Regions from separate parts of the Homo sapiens genome. Here all the other regions are linked to region 1. The links come from fine-mapping of genetic effects on gene expression. A gene starts in region 1. Each other region holds a variant in brackets. All regions are shown on one strand. Distances are from middle to middle. Region 1 holds the start of MAST4-AS1 (MAST4 antisense RNA 1). Region 2 overlaps MAST4 (microtubule associated serine/threonine kinase family member 4). Region 3 overlaps MAST4 (microtubule associated serine/threonine kinase family member 4).

Evidence for each region. PIP is the estimated chance that this variant, and not a neighbour inherited with it, causes the effect. A credible set is the group of variants that fine-mapping cannot tell apart.
Region 2: its variant is the best candidate, but not a certain one, in a credible set for the expression of MAST4-AS1 in skeletal muscle (GTEx, PIP 0.59).
Region 3: its variant is the best candidate, but not a certain one, in a credible set for the expression of MAST4-AS1 in whole blood (INTERVAL, PIP 0.88).

Annotation. Positions count from the first base shown.
Region 1 is chr5:66,998,663-67,009,370 of GRCh38, forward strand. It overlaps MAST4-AS1 (MAST4 antisense RNA 1), which reads right to left and starts at 5,492. Exons shown (of 2, transcript NR_111908.1): 1 at 5,182-5,492; 2 at 2,956-3,387. The region is part of intron 4 of MAST4 (microtubule associated serine/threonine kinase family member 4); the gene reads left to right. RefSeq lists a silencer at 5,370-5,709.
Region 2 is chr5:66,976,253-66,986,960 of GRCh38, forward strand. The region is part of intron 4 of MAST4 (microtubule associated serine/threonine kinase family member 4); the gene reads left to right. Among named protein-coding and RNA genes, the nearest start is that of MAST4-AS1, 23 kb to the right of the region's middle. The variant A/G (reference allele first, on the strand shown) is at 6,318.
Region 3 is chr5:67,095,465-67,106,172 of GRCh38, forward strand. MAST4 (microtubule associated serine/threonine kinase family member 4) reads left to right here. Exons shown (of 29, transcript NM_001164664.2): 7 at 133-211; 8 at 4,971-5,128; 9 at 7,072-7,147; 10 at 8,902-9,111. Among named protein-coding and RNA genes, the nearest start is that of CD180, 96 kb to the right of the region's middle. The variant T/G (reference allele first, on the strand shown) is at 4,258.

The sequences.
Region 1 (10,708 bases):
CACCCCTTCACCCCCAATCCTTTCTCTATTGTTCCCTTTCTCCCTTTGCTTAATATTCATCCCAATGGTGGTAGTGATGGTTTAAAGATGAGGGGATAAAGCCCCTGCCCTCAAGGAGCTCTTACTCTAATAGGGACTGATAATGTGCACAAAATGATTTGGATTTTGATACAGTGGAAGAACCCTTTCATGCAGGAGCTCTCAGGAGCACAGCCCAGTAGAGGGATATCTAATTCATTGGGGATGGGGGGCTCCCATGAAGGCTGCCTAAAGTGACAACAAGGTTGGTCTTAAAACAAGATAGGAGTTAGGTTTTCTGTTTGCCGGGTGATGCATTGATCTCCAAGTGTTGCTGTCTACTTCATAATTGGATTACTGGCTTGGGTGGAGGCCAGTGCTCCACGTGGTTTATTGATGGATCTTCCAGACAGCTGTTTTAGAATGGAGAGATACACTCATCTCTGGATCTTGCCCAGTAGTCTCCTTCTTTTGCATGACCCCTTCATCCCTGTAAGGATGCCATGTGTTTTCTGGCAGTGTGTCCAGCTGTTCTCCCACGGGGTGGAACTCTGTTGGGACTAAGCTATGGGGCTTCTCCCAGGAACTTCCCCTGCTTGAAAGTCAGAAGGTAGAGTGCTGGAGTGTGCTTGCAAGACATGATTCTGCACCTTCTCCAGTCCTATGGGCTGTGTGCCATATATGTATTCTACTCTAATTATCAATCATACATATCAAGGAGTCACTCACTGCCTTGGGAGATAAGTGCTTCATTTCCCATATCTATGCACTGTCTTCTCTTATATTTTGTTAGCTTATAGGTTATCTGCTAATCTTTTCCGTGTCTCTGATTCTCCTGGGATCCAGAGAATGCCTGAGAAAGACCTTGCATTCTCTTCCCATTCTGGCCAGTCTTTAGCATGTCCTTTACTTGCTTCAGACTGTATCCTTTACACTACCTTCGGAGATTGTGTAGTTCTTTGCTCAACCCATCAGGAAATAGAATTCTTATTTTGTTTCCTTTGTTTTGGGTTTTTTTTTTCCTTTTCCTTTTTTGCTTCCAGGATAATGTTTCTTTCATTTTACTCATTCACTTTAAAAATCTGAACCTCTCTTACCTTGTGGCATTATTTTAAAATATTTTTTGGTATTTTCCAGGATGATACAACCTTGCCTATTATCTGTCTTAGTTTTCAGCATTCAGGCCTATCCCTACAAGTTAATTGTTGTCTATCTTTTTATCTTTCTCCATATTTTAGCATTGTGAGTGCAAATTTGTTTAATAATATTAGAAACGCTTTCTTCAACCTGTTCCTCATTGATGTAACTTTCTTCCCATTTCTGTCCCAGTATTAAACTTTATTTCTTGGGATGTACAAAATGATTACAAGGATTGCTCATTCAGGACAGCCAGTTTGCTGTTCACAGTTCTAGCCTCAAACTCTCAAGACCACATTTAGAAGGTGACCAAAGTGGACTTGAAGGTGTGGACAGCCCTAGGGAACTAGTCACTTCTAGGTGCCCTGAAAATGGGGATGGGAAGATGTCAAAGTTAGTTTAGGGCAAAATCCTTAGAATAGGCCAGGATCAGGTAGAGTGCTTAGGAAATCTCAACTTAGTGTCTTATTGGGCATGGCCTCATGGCCCGAGTGTCCTGCACAGGGAGCTGACAGCTTTGCAGACTTCACATCCACACTAGAAAACTAAGTCTTTTCATAGAATCTAAGTTCAAGACAAGACTCCAGGCATATTATCTTTTAACATTGTTCTACGTGGACTGGAGAAAACCCCTTCTTAAAGGGCATGTGTTGCCGGCTGTGGTGGCTCACGCCTGTAAGCACTTTGGGAGGCTGAGGCGGGTGGATTACCTGCAGTCAGGAGTTCGAGACCAGCCTGCCTAACATGGTGAAACCCCGTCCCTACTAAAAATACAAAAAAATTAGTTGGGTGTGGTGGCGACTGCCTGTAATCCCAGCTACTTGGGAGGCTGAGGCAGGAGAATCGCTTGAACCTGAGAGGCAGAGGTTGCAGTAAGCCAAGATCGCGCCACTGCACTCCAGCCTGGGCGACAAGAGTGAAACTCTGTCTAAAAAAAAAGGGGGGGGGTGGCTTGTGTCAACAGGTGGGCAGTAGACAGAATTCAAGTCAGTAAAAAGGACCTGGCATTTTTTGTATGTAGAAGGGGAGGTAATAGTGAAGGATTTGACCCTTTCTTAAATACTTATTTCTTCCTAAGCTTGCATTTCAGTAGGATGACAAGCTTGTTTTTTAGTTTCATTTACCTTACAAAACCAATGGCTAACAATGTCATCCTGATTAAATGAATGAAAGTTCTGAACCACAAAGCTTGTCCATTGTTGTATAGGCTTAGTTGTTACACAATAGAAAATCCTGCTGAATATCTCTATATTGACCTAGACCAGCTATAGTCTTAAGAATTTCCAGTAATCTCAGTTCCCTCTTTGTTCTGCAGTTGAGTTTTACTGCAGTCGCAACTATAGTTTCTGCCCATATAATTATTTTGTAGGAAAATGTCAGTAGTTTTGACAATTTTAATTCTTGTGTTTACCGACTGCTCTGCCTTCTGAATCATATGTAACCAAATCAAGTCAAACAGGTTAGAAGACAACTCACACTTCAGTGTCATCTGTACTCTTATCTTCATGAGTGTGGGAATGTACAATCCACTTTCGCTCACTATATTAATTCATTCTGGTTCCTCATGTACTTAACCTATTTTTATTTTTTCAGTTTGGATACAACCCAAATCCTCTCAAGCCTTTTAAATGCAAAAAAAAAAAATAAATTTAAAGTATATGTAGTTAAAAATACTCATGTCTTTACCCATTCCTTTGAGAATTTCTGTAGAGGCTTTCTCAAAATGCAGAGAGTGGAGGCAGTCATAACATATGATGCCTGCAGATTGGGGTATCTGTCATTTAATCAAGAGAAGAAATAAACATTTTATGTCATTGATTTATCCATTTTAGTTGCTATCATCTTTATAGGTTATGCCCCAATACATGGGCTTTTCTAGAAAAACTATAGAGAATATGAGAGTTGGGAGGTATTGGAGTCCTCAGGTCTTCAAACCACCTACAGGTTGTGTTCTACTCACTGTATCTCCTTCAAGTTTTCTCTGCTCAAACAGCTCTCAGAAAATCCACTCTTGTGTCAGCTCTTTCATCTTTGGATCCAAACACTCTTTCACATAGTTCTCATAGTTTCACATAGCTGTATTCAACTACTGCTTGTTCCCTAAATTTTTTCTTCTCTACTTTCCACAGAGTTCTTCAACCCATAACTTATATAGCACAAGTTCATGTCCACCTTGATTACTCTTCTCTGTGCGGCTTATAATATGTAATTGTCCCTCTTGATCTTGGATACCTACAAGTGAGCACAAAAAGTTATTCTCTGGGCTTGCCTTTGAGGAGGGGACATGGGACTCAAAGGGAATTCCCCTTGAGTTTGATTGTGACATTTCTTAGAGCCATGTAAAGACCTGAGGAATGTTAGCACTGATATCTTTCCAGCTACATGATATAGATACAAATAAGTCACTAAGAGAAAGTCTTCAGAATTTACCGTCTTCATGGGATTCTCAAAAATTCAGTATTCTTTGAGAATACAGATCTACTAGTACTAATAGTTTCAGTGCATCTTAAGAGAAATAAGAGATACTTGGGCTTCTGAAGTATCCATTCAAAAAGGATTTACTAATATTAAATGCCTATATAAACTGAGGAGCTGTCAGGTTCTGAAAATATGAAGATCAGTAAAATGTGACTTTAGCCTTGAGGAACTCAGACTAATTGGAAAGACAGCAGTAAACAGTCAATTATACACAGTGTGATCAGCAGCCTGGTTGAAGACTCTAGAGAGTAGAAAGAAGCACATTGTGGGGTGTCCTCTGCTCCAGTCTTATGTCTGTCAGCATAGTATTCTCTTAGCTTCTGTATACTGCCTACATTTATGCGCAGTGTGTGTGTAGACATTGCGTGAAAGGGCTTATGTATGCCATCTCCTCTTCATTTATGTATATCAGCCTCTTACAGGTTGGTCCTATTATGGACCCCATATTGCAGCTGGGGAAAATGAGAAGAGATTTAAGGTCATAGTAAGTGTTGTATCCAGAATTCAGACCCAAAATTTTTGCTCTAAACCAGTGCTCTGTATCACCCCTCTCAGAGAAGCCTTTATCTGGAGCAGTGGTTCCCAACCAGGGGTGATTTTACCTCCCAAGGGACATTTGGCAATGTCCTCAGACATTTTTAATTGTCAGCACTGGCATCTAGTAGGTCGAGGTCAGCAATGTTGCTAAACATCCTCCAATGCTCAAGAAAGCTCCTCAGACAAAGAATTATCCAGCCTATGTCAACAGTGCTGAGGTCTAGAAACTGCTCCGGAGCACAGGGACACTCTTTTGTGTCAGCCTTCAAAACATCTTTTGCAATACTTAGAAACATTTTTTAAAAGAAGAGCATGGGGCAAAAATGCTGGACCAAGCTCATTAATATCTATTGAAGTGTGTTTTGTCATTTAGTGTCCCTGAATGTTTGGGATAAAGTCCCAAATGTAAAATTGAGAAAATAATGCCTTCTTTGTCTACCTCTGTGGGTTGCAAGGATCTGTGGAGGCTCTGTAAGAATGTGAGGAGATAACGCATACGAAAGCCTTGGACATGAAACATCATCCAAAACTCTTGGAGTCCTTGGTGTGAAAATATTAATGTGGGCCACAAGAATTAGATAAAGAAGATCCCACAGCAGGCTTCTTTTTGTTTACCCCGCCTACCTTGTCAGCTTACACCCCCTCTTCCTTCTCTTTATCCTCCCATTTTTGTAAGCGAGTTTGTTCCTGGTATTTACTGCATGGACTAAGCCATTTTTAGATGTATTTTTTGCTGAATATATACTTTTTTGATTTAGTATTTCTTGCCATATTACACCAGACTTAAGGCAGCTAATTTAAATTATATTTTTTCTTTATGTACTTTATACAAACATTCATGGATAGGGGGAGATATTTAAATACCATGCCTTTCTTCAAAATGAATAACAAGAACATTCAGCCCCCTTCATTCTGCCCTTTCAAGGTCTAACGTACTTGAAGGGGCAATACTTGTAGCATTTGCCACATAAATGCCAGGTAGTGTCTTTCCACATCGGGGCTCACCATTACCTAGATCTGTAGTTGCCGGCCATGAAGCCAAACAGGTGTGCACCGTGGTCATTGATGGAACAGATGTAAACTCATAAATTTAGTTTACTGAGGTTTTCGGTGAGTGTGGCTTCCCGTCCGCGTGCTTTTCCTATACAACCAGCGGCGTCCTGGCGGAGGAGTCACTGTGGACTTCCCCGGAGCGTTGTCACTGCCATCCCTCCCGCGGTGAATCACAGGTCGGCCTCAGGTGCGCGCAGCACACACCCGGAGCAGCCGCGGGTTTATTTATTTATTTCCGGGACGGATCCATTCCGGGCTCCGGGGAGGGGGAGCGGCGGCCCAGGCTGCGGGGCTGTCCCGGCACCGGCTGGGGTCGCGCCGCGGCCGCCTGCTCCCTTTCCCGTGAGCCCCCGCTCCTCAGGCGCGGCCGGGGCTGGTGGGGGGTGGGGGATGCAGGAAAGCTGGGGGCGCGGCCACCAAGCTGTCCAGGGACAAGGCCCTGCCGCCTCCTCCCAGCCGGACCCTGGAAGGGTCCACAAAGGTGTCAGGTTCAAGTCCTCCAATAGGCCCATTTTTTAAAAGTGCTTTTAAGTTTCCGCTTTTTTCAGGAGGGGAGGGCAAGAGCAGCTTTTTCTATTCAAATTCTTTTCCTTGTATGTAGATACCAAAAGGAAACTCGGCACTGGGCATGTTCGGATGTGAATGGTTTTGCTGATAAGCAACAGCCTCCGGAACCAAAGCCTCAAAATAGTCGTCTCCCCCGCCCCTCGCAGAAGCGGCGAGTGGTATCTGCCAAACAGATGACAAAGTACCTCCGACTGAATCCCACAGACAGCGCTTTGAGCAGAACGCACGGCTCAACTCATGTAATTACTGTTTATAGCTGGCCGAGCCTGACTAGGAGAGGGCAGACCCGAGAGGAAATCAGTTTCCCGGACCTTTGAGAGGAGGCTGTGTGTTAATTAAAGGCTAGGACGGGACGGGTACTTCTCAGACATGCTCCAAGTTGTTCTTGAGATCACAGTTCCCATCACATTTTCTCTGGAGGGAGTGAGTAGATAATTGGGATTTTTTTTTTATTTTTGGCCTTGTCTTTCTTCCTTTTTTTTACCTCTCCCCATTTTAGTCATATGGCCTTGAACCCACAGTGAATTGAAGAGAGAAAGAAATGGATATGTCTGACCCCAATTTTTGGACTGTGCTCTCAAACTTTACTTTGCCTCATTTGAGGAGTGGGAACAGGCTTCGGCGAACACAAAGGTAAAAACGCGGGGATCTCTGCCTGGAGAGGGAATGCTTTCACTTCCCAGGGGCCCACAGGCGGAGCTGCCTGAGCCCCTCAGGAGCTGGGGTTTTGTGTATTGGGTGACACTTTGAAAAGTTTATGCCCCGCTAGGGGAGGGGGTACTGTTTCAGGTATTTCTTCGTCCTTGTGGTTTCCTGGGTAACCCTGATAAATGTGCTTCTCATAGGTTTTCTCCTTTTGAAATGTGGATAATAAGACATTTCCTTGTGAGAGGTGGGGGAGAAAAAGGGAAAGAGGAGGAGATACTTTGTCTAAGTCTGTCCCTTTGACCTGATCATGTTTATCCATTTCATTCACCCAGTCATTGAGGCTTCTGGTACTTTTCGTTGAGCCCTTCAGATGTTCCTCTCTATTAAATATTTGACCTTTATAAGATGCAGATGTACGATGCAAGGATAGCCCAGGTTAGCTATTTCATACTATCTGTGGAGAGGCAGATCTACATAACTTTGTCATTTTGATTTTTCAATGGTTTGCTGGCATTTATTACTAATACAGGAGTGTCCTTTTCATTTTGTAACGTATATTTGATAGAAAAGATGGGGAAAGAAAAAGAATTTTAATGTCAAGATGAAGCTCATGCCACAAGTGACAGGCAGTTCCAAGAGTTTGCTGACACTTGTGTTGAGAGACTATGACTTTGAAGGAGGCATTTCTCACCACATTTGTGTCCAGCACAGAAAAGTAAGATTGTTGTACTTTTAGAGGGGCACACCTTTTGAGTTGTGTTAATACTGATTCTTTGTTTTCCTTCAAAACTTGCCTTGCATGTACATGTGAACATGCATGAGAGCAACTTTGCAGTCAGATAAACAGGATGCAGGCTCTCAGATTTGGAGCTTCACAATCTCTATGCTTCAGTGTTCAAAGAACCCAAGAAAATGGTTCGTTCTTTTTGGTTATACCTGTAACTTTTTGTAGTATAAATGTGGATATGTGATACTTTAGAAAACTTAGTTTTTCCTTTTGAAGTTTTTCATGGTTTCTTACATTTCAGAAACATCCTGGAATACTCACATACACTGTTTATATACATGGGTGCACACACAAATCACATGTGCACCTGTGTGTATGAGAGAGACATCTGGCAGGTTTCAAAGTCATATTTGCTTTTTGATGCAGTTTGAAGTGTTGATACCACTAAACTATGTTGGATTCTGAAGTTGTACCTTTTAAGTAATGTGACTATGTTTTTCTCGTTCTGCCATATATGGTCAGAGACCCTCTCTTGTAGTATTGCTCATTTTGTAGTATTGCTCATCAAGTTGTGTCAACCATGCACCAAACCTCCAAGACAACTAATAAAGTTGAAGAGAGATACATGCTACACATGAACTAGGCCACTGCTCAACATGGTGATAATTCGTATGATTTCTTACCATTTCAGCTGGACAGAATCCCTTAAATATTTCTGAGTTGTGTAGTCCTGGCTGCGGTACAGCCTCTACTCTTACCTGGAACCAGTTCTTAGGGAGAGAAGTCTGTTCTGGCATCGTATGTGTGTGTCTGAACCCGTAGAGCAGTTGGAGCCTTTCTTCTTCCTACCTACCTGTTGATAGTATTATTGGAGAGAGTCAGATGCAGGAGGATTCTCAGGCTGCTCTGAGCCTGGCTTTAGGGCAGTACCTGTCCAGCCTGAACACTCCAATTCAGACAGCTCACACTGACAGAGAGCCTAGATTCTAAGGAAACCTGAATTCTTCCCAGTAAAATGGGAGAGCATTGGGTGGGCTGTTTCCACCCCAAGTCATGAAACCGTATCTTCAATTTGGCAAAATAGAGAGGGAAGGGGATTTTCTTCTCCCCCTTTTAAGAGTAAAGGTTATGACAGCCTGTTTGTTGCTGGAGATTTTCAGGTTTTGCAGTTTGGAAATAAACATCCCAAAGATCATCTCTACATCCATCGAGTCATTGTCTGTCTCAAAGGGCTAGCATTGCTTTATATTTATTATGTAGATTCAGAAGGCTAGGTATCCTCATCTCCAGGGCAATGTATGTGGCTATTGCATCCTGTTATTATACAGTGATCAATTCTGGCTCCATGTCCTTCCCTAAGGACATGAAACATGTGCTTACATTGTGACTTCTACTTTTGAGATGCCCCTTAACTGTTCTAAATCCTGTTTCCTTTTCCAAGTCTAATGCTGTACCTTACCGGGCTGAGTAGTTTTTCTCCTTTCCAAAGGACCTTTCTGTTCGCAAGTTGTTCTGTTTTGCCATCCTCGATAAGGGTGTCCCCAGTGTCCAGGTGAGGACACCTTGCTGTCATCATCAGTCAGATATGCCTTAACCCTTGAGATATCTCTCATTCCCAAACTTAGTTCCTCTCCTGCACACTTGCTGACTTGTGTGACAGATTGTTCATTTTGAATATTTTATCCCATCTGTTTGTTCTGATTAACATTGTAATCTGGAGGACTTTATCTTAGCTTTTTCTTTAATATCAGCTTCTTGCATCTATCAAAGTAAAATTCAGCTTTGAGCCTATGAATGAGCATCTTAGAACTCATAAGGATAGAATGTTTGTCACACTTAAACGAGAGCTTGAATGGTTTCAGACTCTTACCTTAAACCTTTATTATGGTAGAAATTGTCATCATGGAAACTTTTGGTTTGCTACATTACGTTTGCCTTATAGTTCAATGTGATGCTGGTTTGTTAGTTTGTACTCTCAGAGAAAAATATTGAAGGTTTTTCTTAAAACCTACAGCCCTACTTGTGCCTGTAACTCTTGGGGTTCCTGAGGAAAGAAGCCTACAGACATACTCTCAGGCCTAGATTCTCAAAGATGACACAGTACTGATGAACTGAAAGACTCTGTCCCTTGTGCTACGTCCCAAGGACAGTATATTATGCCCTTCATTCTCTTTTGTCTTGACCATGGCAGACATGAGATTGTTGGGATGCACACTGGCTTTTGTCTACTCTGTTGCTGTATAGCTTACATGTTCCATTGGAAATAGTTCCTTCTATATAACTGGCTTTGTCCTCCTCTCCCTTCCCCTCATTTCCTCAAGGTAGTCTCAGTACAGCCATTCACCTGCTGCTTTGAGGGACAGAAACCTAGGCATAAATGAAGAGACTTTATACGAAAACTTGTTGCTTTAGACTGAAGTAATGATTGCATGTTTCAGAGATTTTCAGTTTCATAGGTCTGTGGCTATTCCATTCATTGAGGATCCTCTCACAACTCAGAATGGAAATTAGTTGGCCTGCATTCATGTCACTGCTTATGTTTATAGCATCTTTTCTTTGCCCATTGGATGAAAAACTTTTGGGGGAAACGAATCAAGCTTCTCTTTTAATTATATCTGCTCTCTGTCACACCTTAAGGAAAGGGCTACAATTGATTTCTAAATGTTGCTGCTAAGTTTTGAGTTGGGCCTTTAGTTTTGCTGAAGTGCAGTCTTGAGAATCCAGAAGATGCTTGTGTTTTAACCTTAATGTTTAGAAATCTGTCATGTTTTCATTTTGCTTAATGATAATCTTTCAACCTTGATGATGCCTAAATCAATAAAACCATTTTCCACGCCGATGGGTAGTTTGTGACTCAGTTCATCACTTTGAGCAAGTTTCCAAATGTCTTTTTCTGAGAACCAAAAAAGAAGTTTTTGGGGTTTTTATTTTGGTAGTTGTTTTTTGCAGAATTCACATTACTCAGTAATTGCTATGAACAGCAGGTACCTTCAGGGATCTTAAACTAAATCCTGTAGTTGTCAGGATGTATTGAATTTTTTATGCATTCGGCATCTTCCCTTCAGATACATCTGTAGTGTTTGATGAGTTTTTCCTTTGTTTTGCTCATGAATATATGTCATGACTATGAGAACTATAGAGAATCCTCTTCCCTCTTGCCCTGGTATTCCAGGTGTTAGTAAACCTGTACTCACCCCTTTTACCCAAATCCCAATTAACTCCACATTTATTAAGCACCTATTGTGTACCTGGGCACTGTGACCCAATTTTGAAAGCTGTAGGCATGCTTTCAATGAAGACAAGTAAATGAATCATTGCAAACCAGGACAATCAAGAAGTATTTACAAGGTACATATAAGCCATAGGAGCTCACATATAAGCTCAGTGAGTAAGAGAGAATTTGGTCTCAGGGAACCAGAAGAGACACCACATAGAAAAGGTTTTGAAAGATATTTGCTGTTGACGAAAGTGAAGAACAGAGCCTTTCCAAGGGGCAGGATAAATGGTGTGTACAAAGGCCTGGTGACCTTGGCAACACAGAGT
Region 2 (10,708 bases), 22 kb before region 1:
GGAACGCACTCAGATAGGCTCACTCCTTCTTCCTGGCAGCCATCAGAGTTCTGCTGCAGGCCCTGCTGTGAACTGCTCCAGGCCTCTTGATCTGCACTGCTGCCACCTCTGCATATATGATTGGGCCTTCCTGTTCTCTAGTTTACTAAACAGTCATTTTGCTTCTGTGAGCCAAGCACAATACTGGGGAGATGAAGATTAAAAAGGATTCCATCCCTCCCCTCAGGGAGCTCTCGGACTTGTATGGGAAATAGAAAGGGAACTAGCTTGACTGAAGTGTGATAGCAGAAGTATGGAGAAAGTAATCTCATGCTCTCCCTCTGCCCACAACTTTGGAGAAAAGAACAATGTGTTTAATGCACAGGTCTTTGCAGGCTCATCTGGGAACCAGGAGATAGAAGGGATTCCGTAGGCTCTAGCATTCAGGAGGGAGATCTGGACAATTAACATCCCCACAGTGTTGATCTGGAGATTTTGGTGTGATGATTATAATGTGTTATAATTCTTTACCCATGACCTTTATGAGACTTGTAAACTACCTGGGAGCCTTGATCCTGTGGGCTTCCTATTTAGCTCAGTTTGAGATTAAATAGAATATGGATAACTAAGTACCCTTTTTAACACTTCTAGTAGCCACTGACCCCTATTCTCAACTTCTTTGCATCTATAGTTTTCTATTGATGATGATTGGAAATATAAAAGGAACTAAATTGTATAGACATCATGTAGAGAGTGGCAGGCCAAGAGCTTTAAACCAAGCGACAGATCTCTGTGGCATTGGGGTGTAGGGTCAGCATCAGGGCTGATATAGAAAGTCTCACCTTCATGAATATGGGGATCCTTTCTATTATCAGACTTTCTTTTTGAGACAGAGTTTTGTTCTTTTTGCCCAGACTGGAGTGCAATGGTGCGATCTCGGCTCACCGTAACTTCCGCCTCCTGGGTTCAAGCGATTCTTCTGCCCCAGCCTCCCTAGTAGCTGGGATTACAGGCATGCGCCACCACGCCTGGCTAATTTTGTGTTTTTAGTAGAGACGGTGTTTCTCCATGTTTGTCAGGCAGGTCTCTTAACTCCCAACCTCAGGTGATCCACCCGCCTCAGTCTCCCAAAGTGCTGGGATTACAGGAGTGAGCCACCACGCCCGGCTATCAGACATTTTTAGAACACCCCACATGATCTCTTGATTGAGAAAGTAGAAAAAGCAGAAAATGACTGCAAACTCAGAGCATTTAATTTTTTTATTGATCACAACAGCAGTTGTACACATTTGGGGGGAAAAGAAAACAAACCTCCTGCCCCTATGCATGATCTTGTTTATTCAGTTTATTGTCAGTGTTTAGACCCATAAATCCCTCATAATAGCTTCTTGGGCATGAGTCACTGTTCCTCACCTTGATGGTCCCCATCAAGTTCTGCTCTTGGGTTTACATTAGCTGTTGTTTCTTTCCAAAAGGAAAAAAGATTATATATGACTACAGTTAGAGAAATCAATGAAATGTCATTTGATTCTGTTAGTTTTTTGTGAAAACAGAATCGAAAGGCTTTGGCATAAAATGTAGTTTATTGTTTTGTCAGTTCTGTGTATAGGTTTGTGCATTCCAGTGGCATCTTAGAAAATACTGGCAACTACACAGGATTCGAACTCAGAACCTAGAACCCAGTGATCATCCTGTCTCCAAAGGCATTTTTATTTTTATTCTCTGCTTCTTTGAAGCTTCAAAGTAGATTTTCTTTTTCAGTGTAAAATCAGCTGCCTAAGGTACTGTTGCTGTAAAATCACACACATAAATTTTTATATTGATTGCTTATTTTGAGGCATTGTTTTGTTATATGCACAAGTTTATGAATTTGACTGTGAATGAACATGAAAGAAGATATACTTTGAAATCATTGTGGTCACTTTAACACAGAACTAAAAGCTAAAATCAGAAATCTTTCTAGTAAAGTAAAATGCACTCCTCTATTCTCCCCTTCACTTTCTGAATTTTACAGTTTTTTAAGTACATCCAAGGTTGGGTGAGTTGTAGTAATGAGAGTAGGGTTTACTAAAGGAAGTAAAGACCTAAAATGCTCCTATTCTAGTTATTCTGTGTTTTAAAATCAGTCTTTAGGAAGTCTTCTTAAAACATTTTGTAAGCTACGGCATATCAGCAAATATAACCCACTTTTGTTAGGTTGCTGTACTAATGCTGTGGGAAGGATACCAAGAAGAGAAGATGTTCTTCTTTTAGTTTTAAGTAACAATTTAGTTAAGTTAGACACCTGAAAAAATGTACAGAGCTATGAATGCTACATGAGTGGTACAACCAGAGGCCATGAGAATTTAGGATCAGGATTTAAACTGGACTATGAAGTTTGATTCGGGGCTAAGTACATGGAAAGGAGGAGAGAAGATCACTGGGGATGAGCAGAAGGGTAGGAGTGAAAGGGATGATGTAGACATGTATGTTCAAGGATGCTAGGTAAGCCAGCTTGCCTGAGAGCTAATATAAAGTCAGCATGAGGACAGAAGGGATTTTTGTGGAAGAGGAACATTGGAAATAGACTATAGTGTTTCACTTGCTAGTCTTGAGCTTTCTTTTTTCGGTGTAGGACATGTCTGGAGGTTTTTTAACTAGCAAAATAGAATAACATGGTAGCTTAGTAAGATTTCTGCATAGGAGAAACTTGGTCTGAATAGAGTAGAAGGAAAGTGCAGAAAAGGAATGATGAAGAGCTGAAGAAAGGCAGGCTTGAGAAGGGGAAGGAAGAATGGAAGGCATTGTGAAAGAAGAGTTGACAGGACCTGCTGAAGGATGGGAGGCTTTTTACGCAGATTGGGAGAATTGCTATATCTCAGATAGAAGCAGGGATAACAATCCATTTTGAAGATAACAGTTTCACTTTTAGCTATGGTTAGTAATATCGAACCTAAAAATGATGGCACAGCAGCCAAGTAGAAAGGTCCAGCCTGCTGTTGGAGATGCACCCTAGGGAGAATGTTCGGAACTTCATATATAATGTAGATGAAGGTGTAGGAGGTGTCAACAGAGACACTGAGTCCTCTTTAAAATTGTGAGTAGCGGGGGCAGATGCTCGGCAAAATCCACCTTGCTCCTTGTTCCTGTGGTTTAGGTCTGGACTAAGAAAAAAAAATAGTCATTAGTTTGGGGAAGCATGTTCAGCTGCAACCTGCAACTGAGATTTCTTGAGTTCAGTTAACTAGGGAGTAAGCCTGGTGTTCTGCTTTGGAGAAACACCTGAATGGCCTTAAGGTCCAATTTGGGTTCACCCTCTAGATCCGCTAGAGATGCCCCAGAAGCTAGAGAATGATCCTTGGTTGTGGGGCAGGGACACATTTGTTTTTTCTTTCTACTACTAGGATTGGGCTACTGGAATTGAATGTCGTTAATACATCAAACTGGCTGTCAAGAGACCAAATGAGCTTGCTTTTGAGGTCCTTTTCACACTCCAGACACACTCCAGAAATTTCAGGCAATAATTTGTCCACCTTGCAGGTGCTCTACATATATTTTTAGAAAATGTCATTGAACTTTGTGAGAAACAATGGTTATTGGAGCTCTTCTAGCCCCGTGGCTCACAGTCATTAAGTGTGTAATTCACATGTGTATAGAATACATTTAACTCAGAACTGTCTGCCTAATACGAGTACAGACAGTTGTTATGGATCTGACCAAATTTTGCAGAACAATTCTGAATGATGTCATCTTTAATTTGTCGAGGGAAAATCCTCAGGCACCACTATTATTGCAAGATTTTTGTGTGTAGAAGTTATCTGAGGAAGAATATATGCCTTCCTAACTTCAAGCTACTTGCTGGATGCAAAATTCTTTTTGGATATAAAGAAATGTTTTATCAGTTCTGAATAGCTGGGCTGGGGGAGTAGATGAAATTTACTGTCTCTTGCGGTGGCTGAGATGTACATATCTGGCCAGAGATAAGTCCCCCAGGGGTCAAGGATGGCCTGGTGAGTAGAGCCAGCTGCAGCCACAATGCTAGATGCATGACAACGCCTCACACTTGGCTGTGTGTTCATCACTTATACCCACCTCCTTTGAAAAGGATTTAAGGTAGTTTACAATAGAAACATATATGAAATTAGTTAAAAAGGATAAGCAAGACCTCAAACTCTAAGATACTTTTATGTGGCACTTGAGTAAGATAACTAATCTAATTGAGGTCTGAATTTAGCTAAGTTTCTGCTAGTCAAAGCTAAAAGGGAAACAGGATTGATCCCACTGACTAAAGAAACCATGTGTGGTTTTGGAGCTCTATGCCTTGTCCTCACGTGGAATTTTACAAGAAATCTTTCGTGAAATGGCTGATGACCTCAATTCATCAGAAAGGGTGAAAATATATTTTAAACGAGTCCTTTTTAGTATGGTTCAACAAAGAAGGTTGTAAGTTCTGTGTTTGTTGCAAGAATATTGCTTTCCAGCAATGATCTAATTCATCTAGGGCCAGAACTCAGAGATAATGTTTACGTAGCGTGTCTCTCTTTGCCTTTCAGTTATCACTCTTCTCCACCTAATTTCGATCATTTCCAAGGAATCTTCAGTTTTAGAATAAATGCTCTGGCTGGGCCTAGAAAGTGTAGGTATTCTGGGGCAGTCAAGAAGAGAGCCTTCTGCTTCTGACGTTGGCAAAGAGCCTGAGGACTGGCAGTAACAAGTCACCCCCTCTTACCCGAGGAAGTGAACTGCAGGGATGTTAGCTGATCAGGACATTTTTTTTTCTCATGAAAGAATAAAGACTATGCTAAAGAAAAAATAGTGCTGGACTGAGACTCCAAAGCTCTGCACAGTGGAGTATGGGAGAGATCGTTTGGGCATAGAAATTTTAAAGTCATAAGTTTGTAACCCTGTGCCTTTTCCATTTACCTCATAATATGGTAAAACATGTGACTTTGAGTGGCACCACTTATTTTTAAGCCTCCAAGTGGGATTTTTTTTGCAAAATGTTATCTGAAATAGCTGAATATATTGATTTGATGAATACAGCTATTTAATAATGTTCTTATTTATTGGAAATTATCCGCTCAAAATAGAAATTTGTTTTGGAAAGACATTGGACTATGCAGTCAATTGTTCGTTTCTCTACTTTAGGAATGGCTAATAATAGATACTTTCTGACCACATCCACTCAGAACTTTGTGTTGAGAAAGATTCTGAGGCTCCGTCTGGGACTTAGTGGCTGAAAACTGTATAATCAATCAGCAGTATTTACTGCGGTGATGGAAGGATGGGGGTGGGGATGGCAGCACCTGCGCCAGGGATTTGCCAATGGAAATTGAGTTCAGAAACTGGCAGAGTTGCATTGAATTTATTTTGTCAGAAATTGGCCAGAAGCTTCAGATGCTTCTAAAAACATCCTTAGTTTGTTGTTCTTGGAGAACATGAATTTCATAGCCCTATAAACAGATTTGGGTTTTTGACAGAGAATGCAGACTAGGGCCAAGCTTATTTTTGCCCCATTTAAATTTGAGATTTCATTTTTCAAGAGAGGCTCTGACCCACTTTGATTCTGAGGGCTGTAAAGTAGTATTGCTTCTGGAGGAGCATTAAAAACTCAGTGTCTCTGCCAAGATCAGTTGGCTCAGTAATTGTTAAGTGCTCTCTAATTTGAGGACACTTCTCACACACAAACTCTTGATTCTCATAAAAACCCAATGAGATCATTCTTACTCTTTGTTTATTTGAACTTTATCCCATGATTTTTTATTGTGTTTGAGGCAGCCATAAAGTGATTTGAGGCCTCAATTTTGTGGGAATAGGTAGAATAGGTAGAGTTGTTTGATGATGTTATTCTTATTTTAAAGATGAGGAAATCAGGATTTACAGAGAGAGATTAACTTGTCCGGAGTCTTACAAACTAGGAAGTGGCAAGGCCAGGATCCAGTCTGCTCCTGTATAATGGCCTTGCACATCTCAGCTTTCTGTAGGTGACATGTTCTTTTTTCCTTTTACATCATCGGCCTTATCCCATTCTGAAACATGAGCATCCTGTGTTTGAGAGTGTGTGCTTTCTTTTAACTTCTCCATTTTTCCTTACTTAGGGAGACTAAAGTCGATTCTAATAACAATTTGGTAAAGTGTCTCACTTGGCATGGAGGGTCACTTAGAGATGTAATATCGAGTGATCTGAATGTGTCTGGACACCATGACCTGCCTAACTAGGAAAATTATGTCATAAAAGAATATTTATTTATTAAAGTGTGTATTTCTGAAGCCACCGTGACAATCTATTAGAATCTCCTGTTGGTAGTCAGGGATAACTAGCACATCCTAAAACAATGACATCAATAAAAAGCACTTAA[A/G]GAGCTGACATTAGAAACAAAACTCATGTTCCCCTTGAGAATGTCATATTGCAGCTTAAGCCCATACCCTGGGCTGCCTTGGCTTAGTAACAGCATCTTGCTTTGACAGCCTTTTGTTCTCCCTAGCTGATATTCTGGCGGCGGATATCAGCACATCAGTTAATGTGCTTTCCCTCCTGTAGGAACTGATTTGACTACAGTTATGTTACCTCATATTTTCTCCCTCATTAAAGTGCCTATTTGCAATTTGTTCGAAGGAGGTTGCCAGCCTGCAACCACTGTTGGAGCGTGGTGCCCTTTTACTGGTGATTAATTTACACAACTATACAGGGTTCATTGTCTAGCTGGATTTAGTTTTCATATCAATCTGAATTACACTAAAATAGATATCAAGGAATGCTGCCCCATTCATCAGGAGAGTTATAGCTTTTATTGAGCACATAGCATTTATATAGGATTTTTATTTAGGAAGCTAAGTGGTGAATATTGCCTTGACTATGTAGCTGACTTCATTTCGTGGAGGTAGATACATGGTTTCAAGTTCCAACCCTTTGCTGCCACTGAGCTTTTCTTGTGCTCATCATACCTATATGTACCTTCTTCATTAGGAGGATATGAAATGTCAGAAGTAGTCAGTTTCTGCTCTAGGCAGCATTTGTGGGTGAGATCCCTGGTCAAACCAATGCATAGATTTAGTTTTGGAGACAATAGTTAATGTCACTTATTTCTGAGGAGCTGCTTTTCCATGATGACAGACGGCCATCCCTTAGCTTTGTTCCAGAATCTGTATGTGTGACTTTGGAGCTGATCATTTTCATGATTTTGATAGAAGCTAGAATTTGGGATTCTGCTTTAATGGTGAAGAGAAGGTTATTTTAGTATGCCTGGATCTCCCTCTGAGATATTTTAACCTACCATTTGCATGACACTTGCTTTAAGGGACTTGGGGCTATTTGTGTAGTATCTCTAAGTGCCAGTTTCCTCATCTGTATATTGGGGAAGTTCACATTAATCTTTCCATGTTTGAGGATCATTAAGTACCAGGCACAGGGGAAATGATTAGTAAATAGTTTCTACAAAACTGAGGGGGAGGGGAATGGGGAGGGATTAGAGGTATTTGCTTTTGTCATGTTGTGATTTGGTTATTTCATTGTGTAATGTTGTGATTTGTCAACAGAGGTTTTATGCCAGTGTTATGACTTTACACAAAGCCTTAGTAGAGGTGGAGCTCCTGAAGGAATACAAAGATGTAACCTATGACTTCAGATAGTGGGGTTTACAGAGTGAAATATTGTTCAATTCAAACAGAGGAGGACAGAGAAAGAAGTCCTGGACCATGCCTCTCAAAATCTTTTGGCTGACAGTGCTTAGTGGTAACACAGAGGAGGCACTGTATTCATTCACACAATCTTCATTTCAGCAAGTGTTTTTGAGAAGCTACCACCAGCCAGGCTGTGTTCTAGGCTTTAGGGATACGGTGACAGACAGGATAGAGAAAGTCTCTGCTCTCATGGAGCTTATATCCCAGTGGGGTGCAGGGATTTGGAGAAGAGGATGTAACATAAACCAGAAAAACACTGGAGGAGTGACAAGTGAGCTGCAGAGAAGTAAAACAGGGGAGTCCATGGCTTCTTTCTTCCTGAAGGAGTGGCATGCGAGCTGGAACTAAATGACCAGAAGGCAACAGCCATGAGAAAACCAAAGCAAAAGCCTCCCAAGTAAAGAGGCCACCCAGGGCAGAAGCAAGCTAAAGAAGAGTGGTGTGGGCACAGGGCACACATGTGGATGAGTGGGCAGAGAGGCAGGGCCAGGTCCACAAGACTTCATAAGTTGGAGTAAGGAGATTGGGCTTTCCTTTAAGCAGGATGGAAAGAAAGCACTTGATATTTTTATTTTTTTGTTTTAAGTTCCGGGATATAAGTGCAGAATGTGCAGGTTTGTTACATAGGTATACGTGGAAAACACTTGATATTGTAAAGTAGGGTAATAACATAATCTGATTTGCCTCTTTAAAGTTTCCCTGGTTTCTGTGTAGAGGGTGGATAGAGCTCAAAAAGTAACTTAGAATGAGAGAGAATGTTGCCTTGGACTACAGGGGTAAATAGTGAAATTGGAGAGAAGTAGATGGATTCAGGCTGTGTTCTGAGGGGGAAATGTGTAGGGCTTGCCAAGGGATGAGTTGGAGGATGGGGGCGGGGCGGGGGGCATTGAGGGAAACAGCAAAAACAAGGATGGGTCCTAGATTGTCCACTGGATGAACAGAAGATCACGGTTCTGTTTACACAGGTGGGGAAGACTTGAGAGGGCGGGGAGCAGGATCGTGGAAGAAAATTAAAAGTTTTGTTTTGTTTGTGTTGAATTTGAGATCTTTATATGATACTCATGTGGAATCTGGAATTCTAAGGAGAAGTTAGGTCTGGAGAAGTAAATTTGGGACTTTTAGGAAAGTAGGTGGTGTACAGGGCCAGGGGACTGGATGAAGTCAACTAGTGAGAAGTAGCTTCAGGACAGATTCCTGAGACACTGCAGATTGAAATATCATGCTGAGGATCTGGAGGAGGCATGACCAGAGATTAGGAGGAAGACCAGCCAGGTGATTTCAAAGAAGCGGAATGAAGGAGGAGTTTCACACAGGAGAGTGGTCTTCTGTGTGGAGTGATGCTGATCCTTCATTAGGAGGATATGAAATGTCAGATGCTGAAAGGTCTCTGCCCATCTGTGCACAGACCATGGAATTAAAGGACCATTTTGGGGAGGGTTCAGGAGAGGTAGGTGAGTAGAAGGTAGAATGCAGGTGCTGGAAGAAATGTTCAATCAAAGACAAAGGCCCTTAACATGCCAGCAGCTTGAGGGGCCCTAGATTTTCCTGCTGGGCAAATTGGAGTTCTGGATCTTTGAAAGGTACGGAAGAACTTTCCTTTTTGATGCCTTTCCCTTCTTTGTTACCAAATCAGGTTTATTTTTAGTGCCTGCCTTATCTGAGCAGTAGGCCTGGAATGATTTTATAACCTACCTATTTATTTTCCTTTAACCTGTAGCCTGCTTGTGTGTGTCTGTATAGCTGAAAGAGACTTTGAAGTAGGTAAGATACGAGGTTGGGCTTAGAGGAAAGATTAGGTTTTGGGGTAAGTGGAACAAGGGTGTATGGGGTGGGAAAGGGAATCAAAACAAAGGCAGAGAAGGTAAAAATAACTTTCATATGTGGGGCTGCTTCCTATGTCGTTGAATTAGAAAAAATAAAATGGCAATGTATTTAGCATAGTAGTGAAAACTCCAGCAGGTGGTATAGCAACAAGGGAAACCTGAGCTTCATTGACTCCTTGCATCTCACCTACTTCTAAAAAAGACTCAAGTCATCTACATGTAGACAGCACAGTGTGTAGAACTACTCATTCATCCTGTAAACATATATTGATTGCCAATAATGATCCCACGGTAGAGGCTGGGATACCAAGATGGGTGACCCATGACCTTCCCTCAAGGAAAACAGACAAAAACAGCTGTAATATAATAACAGACCAGAGGAAAGAGGATTAATTCTGTCTAATTCCATTTCACCAGGATGTAGAAGTTTGAAAAGTTGTCTATGAGGAAGAGAGGAGGAGGTAGCGAGGCATCCCTTGCTGGGGAGGGCAGGGTCACAGTGGGAGCAGAGTGCAGGGCAGGTCCCTGGGGAGCACAGAGCTGGGAAGGGCAAGGAAGAAGTGTTAAGTGCAGAGTCTGGAAAGGGAAACTGAGCCCAAGCGGGACTTGACTTTTATAGAAAGTATGGATCCATATGTTGTTACACAGAGAAATACTTGCTCTTTATTTTAGAAAGAAAATCTGTAAATGTGCATCATATCACTCTGTCTTTTTCTCTGTTTATTTTTAGCCCTGTGTGTCCAAATGCTGGGAGAACATCACCCCTTGGATGAATTGCCACCACATTAAATAAAACATATCCAAAGCTCATATTGTTTCCTTTCCAGTACTTTCTCTCTGTCTTTCCATATAGACATATATATATTAAAAATATATATGTATGAATTTATATATATATATATATATTTATTTATTTATTTATTTTGAGACAGGGTCTCACTCTGTTGCTCAGGCTGGAGGGCAGTAACACGATCATAGCTCACTGCAGCCTCAAGCTCCTGGGTTCAGTTGATCCTCCCACTTCCTGAGTAGCTGGGACTACAGGTGCACATCACCATGCCTGGCTAATTTTTTATTTTTTAGAGATAGGGTCTCGCTATGTTGGTCAGACTGGTCTTGACCTCCTGGCCTCAAGCAATGCTCCCACCTCAGCCACCTGAGAAGCCAGGATTATAGGCATAAGCCACCACGTCCAGCTAAACGTGTCTATATTTTGTTTCAAACAAATATGCATGTACATGTGTATG
Region 3 (10,708 bases), 97 kb after region 1:
CTTGCTGAACATTTCCACATCCTCACAGACTATGTTTGTGTCATTTGTTTGACTAAAAATACTTAGTTTCCCTGGGGTTCCCATGTGACAGTACGCCAGTGTTGGCCTAAGCTAAACTCACTTTCTCAATAGGACTGATGGACGCCGCTGGTCGTTGGCTTCTCTCCCTTCCTCTGGCTATGGGACAAACACACCCAGCTCTACGGTCTCTGTAAGTGCCTGACTTTTTTTTTTTTTTTCTCTTCCTCACAACAACAGAGCTATTACACAGGCAGTGTTTTCTCTGGGTGTTTCCTGGTAGGGAGGAGAAGATAAATTCTGCATGTCTGCCACTCTGAATAAGTGACACATCAAATGATGGCCTGACAAAAATAAAAAGGACATACTTTCGCTGCAAGCTTTTAAACTGTAGTGCATAAATTGAGTAAGTTCCAGGATCACAAGTTTGGAGGAAACTGGAAGCTTTCATTTTAATAACATTTGGTGTAGTTCGGGGGGAAAAACACAATCTAGTTTTATTGCTTTGGTTCCATGCCAGTGACATTATGCTAAAAATGCCATTGAACTTCGATAGACTGGGTCTTTCTTCCTATGTGGCTTAGATAGAGGTTTGTTTTGTTTTGTTTTCTTTCTCCTTCAAAGAAAAAAAAAAGGCAAGTCTTAATTTGTCTGTGCCTTCTAGGTAAGAACTTTCTTTTAAGAAAGAATTAAAACAACTTAGAAGAAGGTTAAGATAAATAAAGACATAGTGGAATTATGAAAATAGGATAGAGGAAAATGGATACTCTTGCCCCAAACTATAACATTTCAACAAGAGACCTAGCAATTACTGGAAACAACTCAGTAGGTTAGATGTATGTTTTTTTAGTTTATGTTAGTGATCATGTGGGATAACTGTATCTGCAGGGCTATAGAAACAAGGTGGTCATTTAGAAGGGCCTAGTAGATTGCAGGTGTTCAATATATGGAGTGATCTGGCTCTCTTTGCACCAGCAAGGAATGTGGACCTAGAGCCTCATTTTGTCAAAATCTCTGGTTTATTGTTTAGGGATATCCATCTATTGTATTTTTGATAGCCCCCAGCACTCCATTAAGCACATAGGTTTAGCCACTTAATAACACTTGAATGACAAGAAACTACAGTTAAATAGATAAATTCTAACTGGTATCACCTCTGCCTTATACTGATGTATTTCCAGAATTCCAAGTATAATAATATAACGTAGATTTTCTGGAGTACCTTTAAAACCAAATTGTTAAAAGCTGTTGGGTTATTTTTACCATCTCTTTATGGTATTTCATTGAGCAGAGGTAATTTATTTTTCTATCCATTATTCCATTTTGTTGTGATATATGAGTCTATTGTCCATTTAGATCATATTTTTAGAAACATCCTAACAACCTTAAGTAGTTTCAGAGGCATATCAGCATCAGTAAAAGATGCTTAAAAATCCTGAATAGCATGAATGAATAAAATTGTCAGTAAATAATAGTGAAGTCATCCTTGATTCTTATGGCAGTCACTATCAGTGGTTATTGGCCAATATTTTAGACGTGTCTTTTAACTCCAAATTGTTTTTTTTATTTCAACTCTGTCACCTTGCATTGCCTTCAGTCAAGTTTTATTATAACTTGGACATAGAAGTCTCTCTTTTGCAAGAAAAATAGGGGTGAGTTCAGGATTTGTATTCTTTCCATCTTTAGTAAGTCATTCATCATTTTTAAAAGTGAATCCATAAAAAAAGGTGAGCTACATAAAATCAGACCCTGTTTGGTACAAATAATGTTTAAAATAATTTTGTTTTATAAATACTTGTTATATGCCAGGTGCTTGTCTAAATTCTTAAAATGCATTGGCTCATTTAATCTTAGCAACATCCCCTATCATGTAATTGCTGTTGTTTTTTTCATTGTATGGGCCAGAAATCTGAGGCACAGAGAGACTGTTTAACTGAGTGACTGTTTACTGTTCCCTTGTTTTCTCAGTCAGAATACGGTAAGCAGTTTTAGAACCCAGCATCTTGGCTCTTTTAAAGGAATTTACATGGCATTTTTTCAGATAAACCTTGTAATTAATAAAGCTGACCTGGTCGTCAGTCAAAATGAAATCGTTGCTGTCTCTAAATTCTGTATGTGCCTACGGAAGACACCCCCAAGACCATTTTTAGTCATACACACATACTTTGTGTTTCTAACAGCTCTTCTCTGAAGTGTTTATTTTATTGAAGACGTTAGTATCATATAATTATTAGGCTCAATATTCCTATTTTTTCCTCCAAAATGAAATTTTAGCTTCCAGAATTACTCCTTTTGCCAATAGAGAGAAGGAACTATTTAGATGACGGACTGCAGGTGCTGTAGTGTGAAAGTTCAATTATTTTTTTCTCCTTATTGATTGTTGATAAAAGTGATGAGCGAAAACTAGGAAAGCTACTTCTCTATTTTTCTCAGTTTCTTTGTGTTTCTATTCTTTAAATATTAGGGCAAAAACTGTGTAAAACTTCTTAGTAGTTGCAGGTTTTTCTTTTCTAAAGCTAAGCTGAATCACTCTTAGATTCTTATTTCCCTGGGTTAACTGTTAGTCATTTAGCCAATCAGAAATTTACTTTAACTGTTTAAAAAATCAAAATGTAGAATATATACGAATAAAATTGCAAGCATTTTGAAAATATAGTTTAAACTTTACAGATAATTTCAGCTGTTGTCTGAGTGCCAGACTGAAATGTAAACATTATAATATCTGTATCCTTTGGCTATTATGGAAACTGCAAAATTGCTAAATGTTAAAAATGCTATATTCGGAAATTTGAAAGATTTAGCCAGATGAAGTAAATCAGTCATCCCAGAGAATATTCAGTATTGTGGTTTCTTGAAACATCACAGTTTGCAGTTAAAATTAATTTTTGGACCTTTTCCAATGTGATATTCAGATAATTCTTAATTTTGAAATAAGTACTACAGAATTGTATCAGTAGGAAGACATTCTCCCGTATGTTTCTTACCAGATAAATTATTTTCTGCTGAAAGTACAGAAATAAGAATATAAATACTCATAAAAATATGAAGTATGTCTATCAAATGATATGATTTAATAAAAAGTAGAAACTTGTATGTGCATATGAATACTATCCTTTGCAAAATGGTTACCTGGAGAGACTAAATGCTTACTGAATGATATCATGACTCAGAACATGGTTTTGGAACTCTAATTGCCTGAAGAACTAGCAGCATAATTTTTTGTGTAAATCTTCATTCTTTGGACCCTTCTCTGAAGTCAATAGATACTGTTCCTGTGCAAGTACAGTTGCATGGTATCTTGAGCCTGGTGTGTTTTGGAATTTTCACTTTTAGAAAGGCAACATCCCTGTTCTGTACATAACAGACCAGCAACAGTGGGGCCAGCTGCTCATAATCAAATATATTAATATTTCTGCAGCAGTTTGAATCAACATTCATACTAAGTAGATTAAATAAATATTTTAAACAGCTTCCCATCAGTTCAGTTGGTGCTTTGCCACCAAAAGAGATTACTGTAAACTTAGGAACAAACTTCTGAGTTTGTGGGTTTTGAAATCTTGGATACAGGATTGTGGACATTGATTTACCTTTGAAACATATCTATAGATTCTTAATTCTGTTTGTCTATTTGCTAATTTCCTTATCTTTCCTCTTATCACCACTGCTTATCTCCTGCTTGCATTGATTTTATTTTATTTTTTTCTTGATTTCTTGACTTGATTTAGTTCATGTGTTTTATTTCTTTTTTCTTAGTGAGAAGTGTTTAAGGCCATGACTATACTTACTGAATACAGCTTTGATTTATCTCATAAGTCTAGTAGTGCTCTCATTTTTTTATTGCTTGTAAAATAATCTCATTACATTATAAAAATTCCTCTTTGTCTCAATATGTACTTAGTAAGATGTTTTATAATTTCAAGTTATAGGAATAATTTTTAAGCTTTAGGCATTAATTTCTAGTTTTGCTGCATTGCAATGTTTCAGTATTTATGAAGGATACTCTTAATATAATGATTTTTAAAAAAAATGCTTACTAGAACTGACATTTTAAAATAAGTAGTATCTTTCAAAATACGCTTATTCTAACCATGTTTCCATTTACTAAAAAATTTCTGAGTCTCTTTTATTAGAATTACTTAAGGAGTTTACCTCTGACTGAAAATGAAAACAATTAGTTTCTTTGCTTTTTAGTTAAATGTTTCAGATTGATTAAAAGCAGGGTTATTTAGCTGTTCATCT[T/G]TCCTGTCTTTCCTTGTTCCAAATGTTGAATGACGATTTTCAAAAAGCAAATCTACAGGCATGGAACAAAAAATTCACCACCACTTGAAGGTTTTTTTTTTTTATTTTAAGTTATAATCTCAGCCCCCTACTCCCTCCAAAGAAAAGGAAGAAAGAAAATTCAATTCCAGATTTTAAGACAGTGGCTTTATTGGGAAAAGGATCTTCTTTAATCCCTCCCGTTTTACTCATGCCACACACTGATGCATTGTAAAGAGAGGTTTCATTGCCTTATTGACGATCTCATATCATACCATTTATTTCATGTTATTTACCTAAAAGTCCGCATTTGATTTTGAGCAGCAGTAAACTCGGGGGTGCCATGTTCAGTTGAGAACTAATCTGTGATACAGTGCTCCCTAATGTCACTCCAGTGGTCGCTTTCTTGCTTTGGCTTTGACTGGTTCCGATCCATTTTCAGAGCCTGGGTTTTCTCCAGAGAGAAAACTATCTTTTGGGAAATTATAAACAAATGAGGCAAAATATGGAAAGCATTTTGAACTCTGAGAGAGAACATCAAGTTATACATTTAGGCAGTCGTTCTTATAACTTTAACATGAAAAAGAAACAATAAAAATGGTGGTATTGTCCAAGTTTAACTCATCGATCTCTCCTGTTCATTTGAAGAGTTTCTTTCTGAGGTAGTTATGTGACCTCACTTTGGTTTTTTTCAGTCATCCTGTTCCTCCCAGGAGAAGTTGCATCAGTTACCATACCAACCAACACCAGACGAGTTACACTTCTTATCAAAACATTTCTGTACCACCGAAAGCATCGCCACTGAGAACAGATGCAGGAACACGCCGATGCGCCCCCGTTCCCGAAGTCTGAGGTGTGTGGGCCTGGCTGAAAACCATTACTTAGTTGGATTCTCTATTTTCAAACATTTTGAGTGAACACTTCGGTCCTTTAGGTCATATGTGTGTTAACTGACTTGCAAACTATTACAAATATAGTGTGATGTTTCCATGTACACATAATATTGTTAATTACCATTGAAAGGCATCTTATAAGTTTCCTTTTCAGTTCTCACAATTTGCTGATTGCAGCAGTAGTAATCACGATGGTCTTGGGACTACCTATGAAAACATCTAGCCACTGGAAATTTCAAGGCAGTGCAAAAGCAGTTAATGTTGTTATGTTAAGAGGCAACAGCTTCGTGGAAATAGAAGGACAACAAGAATAGGAGGATTTTTTAAAATTCCAGATTCCATATTACAAAATATCTTTGTTCTTTCTTCCCATCGTAAGTCTTACTTTTCTCTAAGACTGTGAACACATTTTTAGGAGTTTGTGTCACCTGAAGTTTGTGGATGCCAAATGTAGTCCACCTAACACTGGGTAGGGCCAGTTTTACTGTGAGTTTGTTTCCTCAGGAAGCAGAATCTAAAACAGAGCTTCTTGTTCAGCATGTTTCTTAGGGAGTGCTTTCGAAATTAGCACCTGTGGGAGGGAAGGGAGAGGCAGGATTGGACAGAGGGAGAAGTCCAGCAGCCTTAGCCGACTCCATGGAGAGCTCGGGAACGACAGGACTCAGCAGAGTTGCTCCCCTGGGCCAAATGCGACTTCTTTTATATCCCTACCTCAGTCACTGGGTCCCTCACTGGATGTGGCACCCTGGGAAAGACTCAGCCTCAGGCGAGATGACTCCTTGCAGCTGATGCCATCCCTGCAGGGACTGGCAGCTGAAGGTTTCTGTGGATAGCACTCCCAGAAGCCGGGCAACAGGTCCTTCTTTGAAGGAGGGATCAGGATAGGGCATCACTTATCCGCTGCAGTATGAGATCTTTATGCTATAGAATTAGTGCACTTTGATATATTAAGGTTTTATTATATTAAAAAATAGCTTATTTATTAGGCGGTCAGTTGAATATCAAAGTTTAATGAGAAGCAATTTCCCTTTGTACTTTTTGTCTTTACTTAGTCTCATAAACTAATACTAAATATAGCCACACTGGATAATTGTGAGACATGTTAGATTATTCTGAGATATGGAATTAACAGCTGGTTTTACTATTTCATCTACAGGCACCATGTTTTACTACATTGGTGCCATTTTTTGTTTTATTAAAGGAATTCCTAAGGTGCGTAGTATAAGCTGTATCCACTTAGGAATATAAACACACCGAAGTTGCACAACTATATATCACTAGGAAGGAAGATAAACCTACTATTGAAAGAGTAAAGAAGAATGCACAATAGTTGTATGCCTCTGTTTCATATAATACATAATGCCTACCTCAGCATCCTAGATAAATATTTGCTAGGCTAGAAAATGGATCTCAATTATGACACCTGTGCCATGGAAGACTTTCAGACTTCTTCAGTGATGTGTGGCAGACCGCAGGTGTATGATAAAAGTGTGAAATTATACTGTTAAATGTGTCCTAGATGTTGCTCTTTGTAGCTATCCTATTTTATTTTATTTTGCAGTTTGTTAATTGTTTTCCAGATCTTATGCAAGCTCATACTACATGCAGAATATAATTTCAATTTACAAACATTTTCTGAACTAGTATTGTATTGTAACTATGATGATTTTGTGGCATTCCACTTCTTGAGCTTTCTTTTTCAGTCCTATTCAGAGTATCTTTGTGTTTATGGGAATGTATGTGTGCATGTGTACTAATGACTGATTTTGTAGTTTATTATCTGATATACTTTTCTTACAAAGGTTGCATAGTACTTTTGATGCAACTGACTGTTTATAAATAAAAAGCTTATTTTCATTTCATGCTGTGGCAAGTTTAAAAGGGTAATTTGCTTTGCTTGCAGCCCTGGACGTTCTCCCGCCTGCTGTGACCATGAAATAATTATGATGAACCATGTCTACAAAGAAAGGTTCCCAAAGGTAATGAATTGAATTGAAGATGCCTAGCATCTAAACGAACAGGCACCATAGGTTTAGAGTCTGTAAGGTTGTTTTGTTATAGGAAGTAAGGGTCCAATCTAGTAATGATTTGCATAAAACAGCTCCATAGTCTTCTTAGAAAGAGAAAATAACTAAAAAAAAATGTTAAGCTAACAACTGCTGAGAACTAGCTGTGCTCTACGTGTGCTGAGCTGGCTCTAAAGTGAACCTGCCACTTGTGCACCACACACGGGGTGGGCCTGGTGAGGTGCCGTAGGGAGGGTCTACTTTGAAAGGCCTCTAGACTGTGCACTCTGTACCCATATTCTGGGCCTGCTGCCACATTGTTAAGTAGAGACTGTTTTTCTCCGTTAGAAGCCTGTAGATTGGTGTGTCATGAGAGTTGCTGTTGTTGTTGTTTTTCCACATTACTTTTCTGTGATTTCCTATCTCTTTAGACATTGTATTTCTAAACCTATTAATTTAGAAGAGAAGGCACAGTTGTCGTGTTCTCCAGTTAGACTGGTAAAGGAACATGAATTGAGAGAGCAATTGTGAAGGGCTGCTGCCAAGCCCCTGGCTGCAAGGACCTGCTCTCAGATGGTCCCATTAGCTCACCTTGTTTCCACGTCTTTCCCACCAAAGCATTTCTGCACATTTGGGAGAAGGCCCCTCTCCACGTTTTTCCGATCCACCCCCACAGCCTGTGTTGCCCTAAACAGGAGAACAAATGAAAATCTTTGGTTTCATAAATCAAGAGTAGAGTACTTATTATTTGCAACTAACCCAACATTGATGTCATTGATTAAAGCTGTTTTAGCTATTTATCACATGTCACTTGCTCACCAGGGAAACAGATACTGACTGTTAACCTAGTTAATGCAGGTTAGGATATTAGAGGGGAGGAGGAGGGAGGAAGGAGAGGGAGTCTCCCTGCATATATAATTAATGTAAGCAAGGAATATGGATTAGGCAGTGGGTGACCAGAGAGAATGAAATGAAAGTTGGAAAGGAAATTTTAGATTTATTTTACCAAGGGAGTCCCCTGGGACTTTTACATAGGATGTAGCTTTGTGGCAAAAGAAGATGATATAAGATGTGTGCTCCTGGCACATTAAAACCTAGCCCGAAAGATACATTTTTAGCTTAGGTTGTGGAACTCTAGCAACAACCTGATGTTTAAGTACAAAAACATAAAGAAATGTTTGATATTTTGGACAGTCCATCTGAAAGAGCCCAAGATCTTAAATGAAAGCGTAACAATTCACAGATACAATCTGAGTTACTTGAAGAAGCTTACAGAGACCATTTTACATTTGATAGAACACAGAAAAGGGAGATTATCATTCTGAAATGTTGATTTCACTTATGTACCCTCAGATCTGTATTTCACATGCTGAGGCTGCTGCTTTTTTATAGCAACTTTTTAAGAACAGTTTTAGCTTCACAAAAAAATTGAGCAGATGGTACAGAGATTTCCCATGTACCTGGGAAGGCTATGCATGAATGCCCCCAACATGCATTAGGGTTCATTCAGCCTTTGTGTTGTATAATCAATGGGTTCAGACAAATGTCTGATGACATGTATGTACCATTATTTTATCAGAAGTGAGGCTTCTTTTAAATTTGATTTCTAGAATCCCATTTAACAACTTGTGGAGGTCTCTGAAAATGCTGTAAAAATGTGATGATTGAATTGTTTACATGTGTGTTTCCTCGTATTACATCTGTGTATGTGTGTCTTCTCTATATAGGCTACAGCTCAGATGGAAGAACGTCTAAAGGAAATTATCACCAGCTACTCTCCTGACAACGTTCTACCCTTAGCAGATGGAGTGCTTAGTTTCACTCACCACCAGATTATTGAACTGGCTCGAGATTGCTTGGATAAATCCCACCAGGGCCTCATCACCTCACGATACTTCCTTGAATTACAGCACAAATTAGATAAGTTGCTACAGGAGGTAAGAACCATGTACCATATAGTTTTCTGATTTATTTTGCTTTTCCCTGAAAAAAATTTTTTTTTGCTTACAAGTTATAACCATGAAATGGAGTTCACATTCCAGAGAAGCAAAAAAGAAGGAAAAAAAAAAAAAAACTCACCTGATTGCTACTTGCTATAAATTGATTCTGGTCTTTATTTATAGTAATAGAAAATTAATGTAATAACCTTTACAGGAATCTTAGGACCCAACAATCTATGACTCTAGGATAAGTGGATTGTGAAGGATTTTGAAGCAGTGATTTTTTCCCCCTTTAACCATAAAGTTATAAATTGCCTGAGCGTATGTGTGTTATTTGATGATGCTATCTAGTTCTATATCTGAAAAAGCTAAATGGAAAATTGCTGGCTTCTTCCAGGCTGTGTGTTCTATTAATTAACCTGCATGTGGTGTTGAGTAGTGAATGGCAACCTATATTTTCATTAGTGTCAGTTCTTCTTCTAACAAAATATCCAATTTCCAAAATGACAGATAAACACAGGACCTGTCTAGGCCTAACACTTGCATGCCTAGCACTTGATAACACCCAGGACAGGAAGAGAGTCTGTATGGGGGAATGGAATGCATGTATAATATTGCTCTTCTGGCTGAAATTGACCAGCCACAGCCTAAAATGAAACCTATTTAGTCTATGTATTTGTATATATTGTATTTTTGTATCTCACAGGGCACAAATTATGCCTTTGCAAACATAATTATAGATAGTTTTCTCTAGACATGAATATGTAAATAATTGCAGAAAACTGAAGGAAAATATTAGCATCCTAATTTTTGAGAACTCTATCTATCCTTGCCCCTGCAGAATTTAGCTGGCGAGATAAGATCCTTCTCTGGCTGGCAGCCGCTGCTTTTCTCCCCTTTGCCCTCTAGGCCTTCTATACTCTTTCCCGATTTCTCACATTGCAACCAACTGCAGTCCACTGATGCAGTCCCTTTCAGACTATCCTTAGGGTGAACACATTGTTTTGGGGTTTTTCTGTTAATTTCTAAGTTGGCATGGACCTGTTCTCTCCCATAAACTAAAAGGAAAATGAATTTTACAGGAAAATGATCATGCACTTGGGTTTCCTGGCAAAGTAAAATTGCTAAATGAGTTACATTACAATGTAAAATTGCTGTAAGAGTTGCCACGTGCTTACGCTTAAAATTGTATTTATCTCATCACGCACAGATGACATCGTGGACTGTTCCCAGTCCACAGGCTGCCCTTTGACTTCTCTACACTAGAGTATAAAGTCTCTGTGGACAGGGATATTATCTGCTTTGTTCACCTAGGATGGTGTGTGACACATAGAAGGACTTTAATATTTTTTGAGTGAATGGCTTCTGATACCCCTCAACTCACTGACATCCTCCTTATTGTCATATCCACTGGACATTTTACTGGAATATTACTGTATTCAGCAGTGTTAAAACCCTCCTTTTCTCTGCCTTCCTTTTAATTTATTGTTCTTGGGACATCTCTGACCATTTCTTCTCTGCCTCTTCCAGGGATTTCTCTTCCAACTCCCGTTTTCTACAAGTTTTCTCACGATCTCATCTTTAGTCTACTCCT